Linked DNA regions of Homo sapiens. The protein of the gene in region 2 purifies or fractionates together with the protein of the main gene of each other region. This does not show direct contact. Each region holds a gene or a part of one and is shown on either strand. Other genes may lie near its edges.

Region 1 (7,456 bases), on a different chromosome or scaffold from region 2:
CTCCGAAAAGCCTGAGCTCAAGCAACCAAGCTGGCCGGGGCAGCGATGGGGCGTGGGCACCCACCTCCTCTTGCGCCTTGAGACTCTCCTGCTCGTTGGCAATTCAGTGTTCTCGCTGCAAGCGGCTGCTACGCAAGGGCGCTGCTGCGGTCAGTGGCTGGACTGTGACTGCGGACGGCGGTGACTGCGTTGGCCCCCTACCCATCCCAGGTGCTCAATTTATAGTCCAGGAAAGGTGTCGCCGGCGCTCAGGGCCACCCCTGGTGTCTCCTCCTCCCGCCTCCCCCGGCAGCACCGAGATAAAAGGCCCAGGCCGGGATGACCGCGAGTAACACTCGCCCGGCCCTTTCTACAGCGGGGGCGGGGCGCGCCGGGCCAGCTCCGCCTCTCGCCTGATACCCGGGCTGAGGGAGGGCGCCGGGGCAGGCCAGGGCAGGGCAGGGCAGAGCAGAGGAGGAGGGATTGGAGCAGCTGGACCCCGCCAGCACCAAGCCCTGGGCAGGCCAGATGAGGAGGGCCGGGCACAGCGAGGGTCAAAAAGGCGTCGGCGTCCGGACCGACTGGAGGGTGGGGCTGGCATGTGGGGGCTGGGCGGGCCTTGCGCGCGCTCCCCGCGTGGGATGACCAGAATGCACGTGCCTTGGTTGCAGAGTGAGCCCCTCAGCCCCGAATCTGGAGTGGCCGCGGCCGGGAAACAGGAACCCGGGTTTATTATTAGCCGTCGGGGAAGAGGGGCCGGCAGCAGGTACAACTCCATCCTGGGACTCTTACGTAATAAAGGGTGACCGGGCATGCTGGGTGCACGTGGACGCGCGGTGCTCCCGCAGTGGCCCTGGCCTTGGTCAGCTATGGGGGGAGGGGAGCGTCAGAGGCTTTTGCCTCCCTCCTGGCGGGGTGGGATCTTTCCCAATCTTTCCTTTAACAGTGGTTGCCGGGGATGAAGAGGGGCACACTATCAGATCTGCTGATTCTTTGAAGAGATCTGCAAGTGGCAATGGGGAGAAGTCCATTTTTGTCCAAGTCGGCTACACAGTGATGCTGGAGAGCCTGGGCCATGTGGCCTTTTGGCTGCCAAGAGGCCAGGAGAGGGTGACAGTAGTTAGGTCTAGTCTTGGGTGTCTTTCACCATTTAACAGAGAAATGGGGAGGTGTCTAATTATTTTTGAGGGTGCTTGTGTGAAGTGTTCCTTTCAAAAGATAGTTCTTAAAGCACTGGGTCATTTAATAGGGCCTAAGCTATGTACCGAATCGCTGGATTTAACTTTTAAGAGCCTTGCACCTTGAATTTCACTTTGAGACTTCCAAACCACAGCCTATTTAATTTTTCCCATCTCATGTCCCTTGCCATATTCCTCATCCACCAGTCCTCTCTGGCAGTCCTACAATTATGTTCAATAAGATTCAAGCTTCTCATTTTAAATCCCTTTTCTCGGCCTGAAACGGTGGCTCACGCCTGTAATCCCAGCACTTTGGGAGGCCGAGGCGGGCGGATCACAAAGTCAGGGGTTCCAGACTAGCCTGGCCAACATGGTGAAACCCGGTCTCTACTAAAAATACAAAAATTAGCCGGGCGTGGTGGCCAGCGCCTGTAATCCCAGCTACTCGGGAGGATGAAGCAGGAGAATTGCTTGAACCCAGGAGGCGGAGTTGCAGTGAGCCGAGATCGTGCCACTGCACTCCAGCCTGGGCGACAGAGCAAGACTCTGTCTCAAATAAAAAAAAAAAAGATCCCTTTTCTCTAAAACTTAACAGAGGTCTCTGTCCCTAGTACAGTTTTTTCCCACGGGACAAAAAATGCCTAAGGAAGGGAGAACATAATAAAGGGGTTTCTTTCTCTCCCTCTTTCTTTCACATTAAGACCTACACTTAAATATTTTCCATAGAAAACCATCTTCCTAATTGTCTTTTGAATGAAATTCTGACTTGGTGCCACAAGGACTAATCTGTTGACAAAAAACAAACAAAACAAAACAAAGTCAGTGACCCTTGGAGACAGACCTAAGTCTGAGGACCCACTACCCCAAAACGTATTAGCTCTACATCACAGCCCATGTTTTCTTACTTGCAAAACTGGGATAGACCTATCAGGGTTTTGAAGGAAGATCAATGGAAAGAAAAATACAGGGAGGCAGGAAGCATTATATAACTTTGAAGCATTAAAATAATTTCACCTTCCTTCTCTGCACACATAGAAACTTTTCTAGCCTCAGTTTCTTTATCAAAAAAATGGAGCTTGTTCCATGGGCCGTGCCAAGGACTTTGATTAAGTTTAAATATGATAATGTAAATAAAAATCACTATGTAAATTGTAAAGTACAAAGATTAATTGTACTTGATACAGGACCTCATCATAGTGAGAGGTGTTTATGTGAAGAGTCAGAAACCTTAAAAGTGTGGAAATTGCCTATGATGAGCCACAGATCCTTCCACCCAACCCCCAGTGCTTAAGCAGGAAAATAATATAAAATATGTCCAATGAGATTGAAAGAGCACTGCAAGAAGAAAACTCGAGAAAAACAGATATACAGTTTCTAGTAGCTGATCTTCTCATAAATTAAAGCGTACTTTGTCCCCCTTCCTGGACCCATTTGGTATTTTAAGTACGTATGCACCCGGATGAAAACTCGGTATTCAGACTTAACTTACTAAATGCCAAAATCTTGCCTCTTTTTCTCTTCTTCCCAGTTCCAACAGTGTGATAACACACGGAAAACGGAAATCCAAGGGATCTAGCAAAAGGATTCCACCCAGCAAAAACGCCAGCTTGGGAGAGGGCCCCTACCTAACTCCTTCCTTCTGGCCTCCACCCCTCCCCTGATACGTTTCCTTCCGTCTAGTCTCGAGATAACCCTTCATCCCCCAGTTTCTTGACTCTGGCCGCTGTTCTTGAACATTTCTTAAACACTTTCAGAGAAAGATGGCTCATGCACCTGCCTGCAAAACTTCCCAAACCGGGCCTCCCAGCTCCCCCAGACCCCGCAACAACTCACACCCGCCGGGGAAACTCCAGAAGGAAAAGGTCCGCCGGCCAGAGCTCTGGGCCCTTGGAATCACCCCACCACCGCCCCTCTGGCTTCAGCCAATCAGAAGCCGTCAGAAAATATTATGCAAATGAATCCTGATGCTCCAGCCAGTCAGAAGCCGCGGAGCCCTCCCCCACGCAGCGTCCTCTTTCACCCCAGCCCCGCCAAGCTGGCTGCCGCGTCCCTGGCAACCGGCGCGCAGCCAGTTCTCCACTACGCTTGGCTGTAAAAAAATTAAAATGGTTGCCTGGGGTCACATGGGAGGGGAGCGGGCTGGCCCAGGCCTAAGGAAGGTTGGAAACCTCACTGATTGCCCCAGGCACCTTCCCTGTCCCGATCTGGAACAGGCTGGAGGTGCTGAGCCACCTGCCCGGAATTCAGTTTGCCTCCAGAAAACAGAAGTCATCCGTTGAACAAATAACTTTCGAGTCCTTGTAGCACGCCAACAGCCTCAAAGCAAGAGGTCTTTGGTCTCTGCTTTCTATCCTATATGCTAAATTTCCGGTAAAAGCCTTGTCTGAGGTACCCATCCCCACTTCTTGGTTCACAGTTGCAATTCTGGAATTCTGGATCTCTTTTTTTTTGTTTTGTTTTTTTTTGAGACGGAGTCTCGCACTGTCGCCAGGCTGGAGTGCAGTGGAGCAATCTCGGCTCACTTCAACCTCTGCCTCCCGGGTTCAAGTGATTCTCCTGCCTCAGCCTCTCCAGTAGCTTGGACTACAGGCGCGCACCACCACGCCCAGCTAATTTTTATATTTTTAGTAGAGACGGGGTTTCACCATGTTGGCCAGGATGGTCTCGATCTCTTGACCTCTTGATCCGCCCGCCTCGGCCTCCCAAAGTGCTGGGATTACAGGCGTAAGCCACCAGCGCCCTGCCGGAACTCTTAAATTCTGGTTCTTAATTCCCACTCTTTTAATTAAGCAACCTGGAAAGCATGCTTTGCTGGCTCATCTCCCCAAAAATGTCCACAAATTATCCTTGTACTGTGTCCCTTGGATAGTTTTTTTTTGGGGGGGGGGAATGACATTTTAAAAGTGACCAGAAATTCCTGAACAAAGTAGTCAGCAAGAGTAAACTGGTGCAAGAAAGTCAGACTGGATAAAGAAGAGATCTGGCCTAGAACTGGAAGAAAGATGATATTTTAAGGCAAGAAGCCAGCCCAACCCAAGATAGCAGAGATCCTGGATTATTTTGAGACAGACTTAGAAGGATCCATTTCATGAAAAATGTCCTAGAAATATGACAGTCAGACTCTCGTGTTAAAGGCCATGTAGTCCAACCATCCACTTGTGCTGAAATCGCTCACAACATCCCCACCAAGTGGTCGCCCTTGCCTACATTCTTCTATTTTCCGTTCTCCAGTGTTCTTCTATCTTTTGGAGCTCTACAGAAGGCCATGAAGCACACCATCAGATGTTTGAAGGTAGATATGGTCTCCTTAAGTCTACTGTTCTTCAAGTCAGTTATCCCCAGTTCCTGTAGCCATTCTTCATGTTCTCTTTTGAGTCGCTCATCCATCCTAGTCACTAACTTTAGAAGTAGCTCTGGTTTGCTTTTGAGTGTGGCCCCTCTCATTCCAAGTACCATCTTTTCTAGGACAAAATGGAGTGGCACAGCCACTTATATTATTGTGAATGGTAATTTTTCTAGGTCATATTTATTGAGCACAAGTGCTTGGAAATTAGACTTGTTAACTCAAAAGACATGTTAACTCATTTTAACTTCACAACCACCCTGAGAAGAAAGCAAGGATCAAAGAGTTTAAGGGCCAAACTGTCAGAACTGGGATTTGACCCAGTTTTCTAATGCCAAATCCAATGTTCTTTCTACTACTCAATAGATAGCTACTGCTTATAATGCTGCCTAACATTTAATGGACTTATTTTAACAGCTACATCTATATGCTGCCATCTATATAACAAAATTTTGTGTACCCTATACTTGAGTAGTGGGGATTTTTTGGACCAAAGTACAGAACTTTATATTATCCTACTTAAACTTTATCTCATTGGATTTGGCCCATTAGTTCAGCCTGTTTTATTATTTTGGGTCCTGATTCTGTGCTGTAATGCACTTGGATCTTACCCATATATTTGATAACTATTCTATATATTTATCCAAGTTATTGATAATAGGTACCAGGCACCACTGGGCAAGAGGCAAATTGCTGTAGAACATCTGGAGAGCTCCTTCAGTTTGATATCCGTCCATTAATTGGCACTTTTTGGCATAAGTTGTTCCAGCCAGCTATGAATCATGTTAATTGTACAGTCATCCAGCCTATATTTTTCTTCTTGACCACAGGATATTATGAGAGACCTTGCTAAGTGCCTTGCTGAAGTCCCAAGCTAATAGCCAGTTTTCTTCCTGTGGAGTCAAGAAGAAGGGCATTTTTGTCATATACCACAAAGAAACCACCATCACATGATACAAAAATGCAGAAATAGCATCATAATAATCTGAGTTAAGATGGGGAAGGGAGTGTATCTTATTGTAATTGTCCTTACAGGAAAAACCGTCATGAAGGTTTAGTTGAGAGAAGGTAGACAGAAAAATGCCAAAACCTAAGAACAGTGAGTAGTGAATCTGCTGGCTTCAGATCCACTTTCAGGTTTTGGAATGTCTGAATATGTCGTAGTTAGCATTTTGTCACAATCTCATTTTTTAAAGCGTCTTTAGCCTTGCGTTTGGAAGAAGTAGAGCACAGGGAAAGTTGAGAATACTAAAGAATACCTTTTGTTATGTTCTCATCATTTCTACATCTTTAAGAACTCTGAACCGTATACAGAACTGTACATTCAATTTCAATATGGTAGATGAGAAAAGGGCAAGACACATCATAGCTTTTCTTACCACATAGAAACTTCTCAAGTTGATTTTTCCTAGATCCTTAGGATTCCAGGACTTTCTTGTACCATCAGCATAGAAGGAAGAATGAGAATGTTCTTTCTTCACTCTATCCTGTTAAAATGTGTCAGCTTGGTTAGTTTAAATTCTGAAATTAGATTCAAAGTTTACAAATTATAACACCAAATTAGGGAGAAAACACATAATTATCAATATTTCATATGTTCAAGTCCTAATTACAAATCCACATATATACATATACATATGGGTTGTAGCTTCATTTTGTTGAAGCTACAGTGTCATAAATACATTATCCAATGGACGGGTTCAACAGTTACACGCCCAAGTCTTCCATAATTTACTCTTCCAACCTTAATAATAAAAAAACTAGACCTAGACAAGGTACAATGAAGTCAAGGCGAATTCACCTACATCATATTAGACAGTCTGGACAGAGTTAGTACACAAAAGATGTAAATCTAGAAGCAAATACAACCTACAAGTCCTTCCAGCTATAGAAGACCTTGATAAGAATAGAAAAATAATAAACAATTAGGAAGATTTGAAAAAGGATATTGCAGAGCAAAAGAAACAAAATTTGAACCAAACACATCACTAGAGAGTCAATAAATGTAATTCCAAACAAGGAACAAAACAGGCATGCCAGAAAATTCAGTTACTGGCATAGGGCAAAAGGTTCAGGTAATCCCAATGAAAAGACACAAAAGAGTGAAAGAAAATGGAGAGGAAATGTTGGATAGAGAAGACAAAGACAACATAATATAGGCCAGGCGCAGTGGCTCACACCTGTAATCCCAGCACTTTGGGAGGCTGAGGTGGGTAGATCACTTGAGGTCAGGAGTTTGAGACCAGCCTGGCCAACATAGTGAAACCCCATCTCTACTAAAAATACAAAAAAATTTAGCTGGGCATGGTTGTGCATGCCTGTAATCCCAGCTACTTGGGAGGCTGAGGCAGGAGAATCACTTGAACCCAGGGGGCGGAAGTTGCAGTGAGCCGAGATCATGCCACTGCACTCCAGCCTGGGCAACAGAGTGAGACCCCGTCTCAAAACACACACACACATACACACACACACACACACACACACACACACACACACACACACAATATAAGCTTAACTGATGTTTCCAAAGAGACCTCAACATGTGAAATAGAAGAAATTCAGTTGTAACATAGAAAATTTTCCTTGACAAGATGCATTCATCTGCAGATTTAATAAGCATACTATATACCAGATAAAATTATGCAGAACAGTTGAAAAACAAGCTAGTTGTATTTTTCAACTTCAAAGAAGAAGAAAAAAAGCCTTCAAGTGTCCAAGCAGGAAAAGAAGTCACCAAAAAGATGGTGGTCTCAGGGGAGGAGAGAATCCAACCAGCTTTACAAAAACATTCCACTACAGGAGACAGTGGAGCTGGAAGAAAGAATGTATGATTCAAAAGTATTATATTACTCAAGCAAAAAACAATAAGCAGACATTCTCAAACATGAACTCAGGATTTTTCTTGAGAAACTTACTGGTAGAAGCCTGCCAACAACAAAAAAAATTAATTTAAATG
Region 2 (7,023 bases):
TTGCCTAGGACTTTCCTACCCTCAGCAAATAATGCCAAGAAATTCCACTATGTACCTCTGAAAGTTGGGGATAGGGAGACCCTTATTGTCGGTATCTAGAAATGCTGCAGGTGGCACCAGGGAGACCTATGAGGTGGTTACAGAAGACCTGGGTCCCCCTTTTTTTGTCTTTGTGTAATTGTGGGCTGGTTTCTCAGCCTCACCAAGCCTTTTTCTAATTAGAAAAATGGGAGTAACACTTCTTGCCCTACAGCTCCCTAAGTGAGCAGGAGTTGAGAATAAGGAGGACAGGACAGCTGGGCTGGGCTGGGCTGGTGAGCATGCCTGTACCAGATCATGGTTGCAGTTGGTTGGGCATTTGACTGTTGCTGTTTCAAGAACCCTTATTTTCCAGCTCTGCTCTACACATTGCTACCAAATCCTCCCCAGCCTTCAGATGAGTCTGGATGTTACCCAAGGCAGAGGTTCAATGACAGCACACCTCCTTTTCTTCCTCGCGGTGGTACTCAGTAATGAGGTTAAAGGGCACAGTGTACAGGGTGCTGGACATTACACCAAACAGGCTGCACAGGACCAGGGTGGAGTAGACATTCGGGAAGAGCCCAATAAATCCCGTCCCCAGGCCAAACAGCAAATATCCCGTGAAGTAAAGACCCTTTAATCCAATGTAGGATACCAAAACTTTCTGAAAGTCTGTGGGAAGAAGAGAGGGAGAAATTACAGCTGGCAGTGCCTCATAACATTTAATAATTTCAGACAATCCTTTCTTCTGAAGATTCACCTTTTTAGACATCCTTTGATACTGAGCCAGGAACAAAAGAATCCCCTTATCTGTGGGTTGAAAACAGCTGGCTTTTGGAACCATTTTAAAGACCTTTCCATAAAGGACAGCTTGAAATTGCCTTGGTAGGCTGATTTTTTTTCTACAAAGAAGAATCTGGCACTGTTTAGCAGACAGCTGGATAGCAAAAAGAAGCGAGAAAGGTGGTGGAAAATCTGACCTAACTATGGGAACCTGGGGCTTCAAGAAAAGTGTGGGTTATTCTAAATCAGATGGGCTGTGGCCCCATAGGACGAAAATAATAACACAGGCCTATCTTGGCCCTACAACCCAAAGTCAGGTTGGGGAAAATTGAAACAACCAAAATTTACAGAATGATCTAAGTCATTCATGATTTCTTAGCCCCCATCTGAATGGAGTCTGCACACCTGAGAAGGAGGTAAAAGATGTACAATTATCTGAAGACACCTTCCCTGACTTGCCAATCCTTCCCAGACTGGTAAGGGGCTCCCACAGCACCCAGCATCTCCTCATCGCTGGCTCCCTAACTCTTGGTAAACAAGTTCCTTGACTTCTCAAAACCCCAGCTTCCTCATCTGAAAACTGGGAATAATAAAACCATCTTTTGGAGTTGTTGCCAGGATCAAGTGAGATGAAGTGTCTATGAAATCACCCAGCTTAATGCCTAGCATGTAGAAAACATCCAATTAAGCAACAAGACAGGCTGAGCTGGAGACAGTTGACTTTTAACTGGGTTCCTCTTCTAGCAGGTCAACTTGGCTTGCTTATATCAGTATAGTGGCAGAACTAATTTTTAAAAATGAAAAATTCTGCTTTAAAACATTTTACAAGGTTTTCTACAATGGCAAGGAAAATCTCTAAATTGTTTTTATCTTCTTCCCTCAGTCGTTTTTAATCCACACATTCCTCATCTCTTCCCTGCCCCATTCTCCTGGAACACAAGAATCAGAGGATAAATAACAGATACTTGAAACGTGACTATTAAGAATGACATTTTCCATATCTATTCATATAATTATTGGACTTACACCTTGTAGACAAGCAACCTTATTTGCAGTACATTTGAATCAATTATGAAACTAAACACTCTCACACTGATGGAAGACAAAGATCTGGAAATGACAAGTAGGCAACATTGCTTCCTCTATTAAACTTATACCATGACTGGAGGACTGTTGTTAAGGTTGAGAATACAAAAATGAGAATAAAGCTAGAACAGTTTCTGCTTGCTTAATAATTATATTTATACAGAAAATGTAATCTAAGGTGTCTCAATACCTAAAAGATACCATCAATACCCATTAGGGAAATGCTCTTATCCAAGTGTGTATGCCAGCAGAGGAGAAGGCAAAGTAGGGCAAAGAGGTATTTGGAAACATAAGTAACTTCAGTACAGAGACTGAAAGTCTGGCAAAGAATACTTTATTCACAAAGATAATTCAGTGAACTTCAGGGCCAAGCTTGAATTGCCCTCTGATGGGTCTGATACCCAGTGGTAGTCATATCCTCACACAATGCCTCTCTTCAGGACTGAGGGGAAATTATAGATTTAAGCACCAGTTATGACTAGTAGTGTATGATATTATGGTATGAACAATAGGCCATATCTTAGTACTCAGTGTTGTTGTTCTAATTGGTATACCTGTACCTGCTGTATACAAAAGGAGCTTAGAAACAAGTCCCTATCAGCACTCTCCACCTCAGCAGCCAGATTGTCCTGCCAACCTCCATGTGGATAGAAACTCTGAATCTGCTCCTGATGTTATGTGATGAATCCAAAATAGAGGGTAATATAGTGAGCTCTGGAAGGAAAGGAAAGGATTGATTCTGCCCAGAGTGGGTTGAGGTGCAGGGGGAAGAAAACTTGAATGATTTCACTGAGGAAGTAATATTTAAGCTGGGTCTAAAAATATTATTAGAAGTTGTCCAGTTGGGGAAGTAGAAAGAGCAGTTCAGGCAGAAGAAACTAAAAGCAGTGGCAAATACCCAGAAATGAGAAAGTCTGCATAGTGGGTCATTGAGGGTGGTTAATTGATATGGGAGTGAAAAAGGGCAAAGTATGAACTAGGCCAAACTGTGAAAAGCTCAGGAATTTGACTTTATCCTATGGGCATGGGGAATCCCTAAAATCCTTGAGCAGAGCTGGCTGGTATTTTATAAATAAAATGTTGATTTGAATTAACAATGGTAGGGATCCCATAGATTTATACATTAATAAAACTTTGGAAAACTATTCAACTAATAATTTCTTTTGTAACTAGAAACGCTTTTAACTAGAAGGGACCTAAAAATAATATGCTTTAAAGTTTCAAATGCCATAAAATTTATGCGGACAAGACTAATGGAATGTTATCTAGTAGGAGTTCCCTGAGGAAAAATAAGTTTAGATTGACACTTTTCTTTCTGACAAAGATGAAGGTAGGGCTGGATGTAGTGCCTCATGCCTGTAATCCCAGCACTGTGGGAGGCTGAGACAGGAGGATCACTTGAGCCCAGGAGATCGAGACCAGCCTGGGCAATGTAGGGAGACCCCATCTCTAAAAAAAAAATTTTTTTTAAATTAATAAGCCAGGCACAGTGGCATGTGCTTGTGGTCCCGGGTACTCAGAGGGCTGGGACTTGCTTGAGCCCAGAAGGTTGAGGCTGCAGTGAGCCATGATCATGCCACTGCACTCCAGCTCAGGTGGCAGAGTGAGACTTTGTCTTAAAAAAAGAAGAAAAACAAAAAAAAGCATGAGGGTAGTGGTAAATAGTCCCCTCAGCCCTTGAAATCATGAAGGACTTAAGCTGGATAATTTACTAGACCCTTTTAGTCTAACATTCTTTTATTCTATTTTAAGTGCTTGAAATCTTCCTCCTGGATTTTTTCTTAGTTTGCACACTCGAAGAGGAAGAAAAGAGTTTGCTAAATAAATGTGATCTTTAAGCACTACTCTTTGAGTATCATAAATTTTAAAATAATGAATGTTGTTGTTACGTGATTATTGGGCTCATCAACTTGCATGTTTATATGAGGTCCCATTTTCCCAATTGGGCTAAATTTTTAAGAGGTCTTGAGGCAGGTTTCCTGCTGTGCTATGGCTAGGTAAAGGGAAGGGGAAGGGGCCCTCACATACATCCACACTTTCCCTTCACAAGAAGCAGGCTGACAGTGACAGAGTGAGTCCTCCTGAGAATGGTAACAGGGATTCTCCCCATCTCTTCCCACTTCCTTCACCTGGGCCATATCCCTGCTGTCCCCTGGACCTGTCCAAAGCCCAGAGCCCTGAATTGGGGGTCAGTTATTCTTACAATCTTGCAGAAGAAGAGCTCTTTATAGGAGCTCTTTATAATTAGGAGAACTGCATACATTTTTCAGGCCAGACGTTTCACTTAACTCAATGTATACAGAGCTTGGAGATATCCATACACAGTCGCAAGTACAATGCAGCCTGTGCAATGCCCTGGAGTTATAGCACAGCCACCTGGACTTACATAAAGACAATAGCAGAAATCCCTTTGTTCAGTGTCTTCACAGCTGCAACTTAGGTAAGTGGAGGTTAAGAGGCTCAGAAAAGCTGGCACCTGGGAAGGAAAGCCAGCTGTCCCCAATCCTGGTGTGGTGCTCCTATAACCCACCCAGTTACACATCTGAGCTAAGGTCATTTTGCATGCTGACTTTGTCACCTGTCATATTAATATTGCTTCTCTTCTGTATCATCTACAAATCTGATAAGCCTATCTATGAAATGCTACCAATGATCTTGCTCCAGTAGAACACGAACCTGCTGGGACTCATCCATCCAACACTTCATCTTGTAAAGATTCCCTTTCATTTTCCAGAGAAACTTGATCAGGAACCCACTGATTCCAAGAGCAAAGTAATCAGTGAGGAAATGACACCTAGAATTCATGATGAAAAAAGGATGCTTTATATGGTCCTTTTTAAGGTGATAGTTTTTCCTGACGTCCATAGATTTATTAAGAATCTGGTATTTTAAACAGTAGGAAATACACATAGAAATATCAAATCCAAGTTGTGCTAGACCAGAAACTTTTAGAAGACATCCTTAGGAGAGAGAAAGACTTACAAGAATAAAGTGAGGAAAACACGGAGTTGATGCACAAGCCCCAACATCCAACCTCGACTCCTCTTTCGTAGATGAGAAACTCTGTGGAGTTGTGTGCACTATAGGGATCCCCGCGGTACACAATCTGAAAGAGAGATTGGAGGCTGTTGAGGTACAAATGCAATGTAGTAAGAACCCTTCTCATGCACTCTGCTTCTCCACCTCTGGGGAGCAAATGTCCCTGCCTGAGGGACCCTTTCTAGAGTACAGAGCTGATGCTGTCATGACCAAGTCGCATCCTATCACATCTTCATTCAAGGACCTATCAGAAATCTAATGCTTGCTGCATCAGATCTCAACAACACTCTCTTGGATCCTTAACATTCCTCCTTCCATCTCACAGCTGGCCCCACCTGACTTAGGAAATCCCACCACTCATCTTCTGCTACAGCCAATCGGCTTCTGACTCATCTCCACATGGGCCATTCCTGTTCCTGCTTGGAATGTTTTCTCCCTCTCTAATATTCCTCTAACTCCTACTCACCCTTCAAGGCCCAGACCATACTGCACCTCCTTTTTTATGTGTATTTATTATCATATTTTATTTTTTAAGAGACAGGGTCTTGGTCTGTCACTCAGAATGGAGTACAGCGGCACAGTCATAGGTCACCGCATCCTTGAACCCCTGGCCTCAAATGATTGCTCCACCTTGGCCTCGAAAGCACTGAGATTACAGGCATGATCCACCATGCCCGGCCTGAACCCCACCCCTCCTTTTTGAAGCCTGCCATGATTGCTACAGCTCACATCAATTGGCCCTATTTGTTGTATTTTTTTTTTTTGTAGTTTCAGCATTTTATTTCTTATTTTGATTCAAGATGTGAGAGGTATTACAAACACTCAATTATGAGTGATGCATTTACGTGTCCTATTCTTCCATCTGTAGATAAGTGAAAAGTCATTTAAGAAATTAGAGGTCTCTGTAGTAAATCCAAGTCACAGTAAAGCAAACAAAAATGCATATGTGTGTGATATAATGTGGAACTTTACCCCCTTGGAAGACTTTGCAGGCTGTAAGAATTTCATTTTTAATGTATTTCATACAGGCCGGAGCTAACAAGTTAATTTCTATTGAGCAAAAGTTTTTTTTTTTTTTTTAATTTTTTTTTTTTTATTATACTCTAAGTTTTAGGGTACATGTGCACATTGTGCAGGTTAGTTACATATGTATACATGTGCCATGCTGGTGCGCTGCACCCACTAACATGTCATCTAGCATTAGGTATATCTCCCAATGCTATCCCTCCCCCCTCCCCCGACCCCACCACAGTCCCCAGAGTGTGATATTCCCCTTCCTGTGTCCATGTGATCTCATTGTTCAATTCCCACCTATGAGTGAGAATATGCGGTGTTTGGTTTTTTGTTCTTGCGATAGTTTACTGAGAATGATGGTTTCCAATTTCATCCATGTCCCTACAAAGGACATGAACTCATCATTTTTTATGGCTGCATAGTATTCCATGGTGTATATGTGCCACATTTTCTTAATCCAGTCTATCATTGTTGGACATTTGGGTTGGTTCCAAGTCTTTGCTATTGTGAATAGTGCCGCAGTAAACATACGTGTGCATGTGTCTTTATAGACAGCATGATTTATAGTCATTTGGGTATATACCCAGTAATGGGATGGCTGGGTCAAATGGTATTTCTAGTTCTAGATCCCTGAGGAATCACCACACTGACTTCCACAATGGTTGAACTAGTTTACAGTCCCACCAACAGTGTAAAAGTGTTCCTATTTCTCCACATCCTCTCCAGCACCTGTTGTTTCCTGACTTTTTAATGATTGCCATTCTAACTGGTGTGAGATGATATCTCATAGTGGTTTTGATTTGCATTTCTCTGATGGCCAGTGATGATGAGCATTTCTTCATGTGTTTTTTGGCTGCATAAATGTCTTCTTTTGAGAAGTGTCTGTTCAGATTTTGTCACCACCAGGCCTGCCCTAAAAGAGCTCCTGAAGGAAGCGCTAAACATGGAAAGGAACAACCGGTACCAGCCGCTGCAAAATCATGCCAAAATGTAAAGACCATCGAGACTAGGAAGAAACTGCATCAACTAATGAGCAAAATCACCAGCTAACATCATAATGACAGGATCAAATTCACACAT

Evidence for each region. Proteins that work in one complex are often made in the same cells at the same time.
Region 1: the proteins of SLC45A2 (region 2) and MID1IP1 purify together in Homo sapiens (affinity purification with mass spectrometry; 2 studies listed by BioGRID and IntAct, with this or other methods). This does not show direct contact.

Annotation. Positions count from the first base shown.
Region 1 is NC_000023.11:38,797,022-38,804,477, reverse strand, and holds the start of MID1IP1 (mid1-interacting protein 1), read right to left. Parts: upstream 3,020-7,456; 5' UTR 2,991-3,019; exon of another isoform or gene 2,686-2,990; intron 1,944-2,685; 5' UTR 65-1,943; intron 1-64. UniProt on the Homo sapiens protein: Plays a role in the regulation of lipogenesis in liver. Up-regulates ACACA enzyme activity. Required for efficient lipid biosynthesis, including triacylglycerol, diacylglycerol and phospholipid. Involved in stabilization of microtubules.
Region 2 is NC_000005.10:33,946,682-33,953,704, forward strand, and holds part of SLC45A2 (membrane-associated transporter protein), read right to left. Parts: intron 4,997-7,023; coding exon 4,873-4,996; exon of another isoform or gene 4,691-4,872; intron 694-4,690; coding exon 482-693; coding exon of another isoform or gene 467-481; exon of another isoform or gene 1-466. UniProt on the Homo sapiens protein: Proton-associated glucose and sucrose transporter. May be able to transport also fructose. Expressed at a late melanosome maturation stage where functions as proton/glucose exporter which increase lumenal pH by decreasing glycolysis.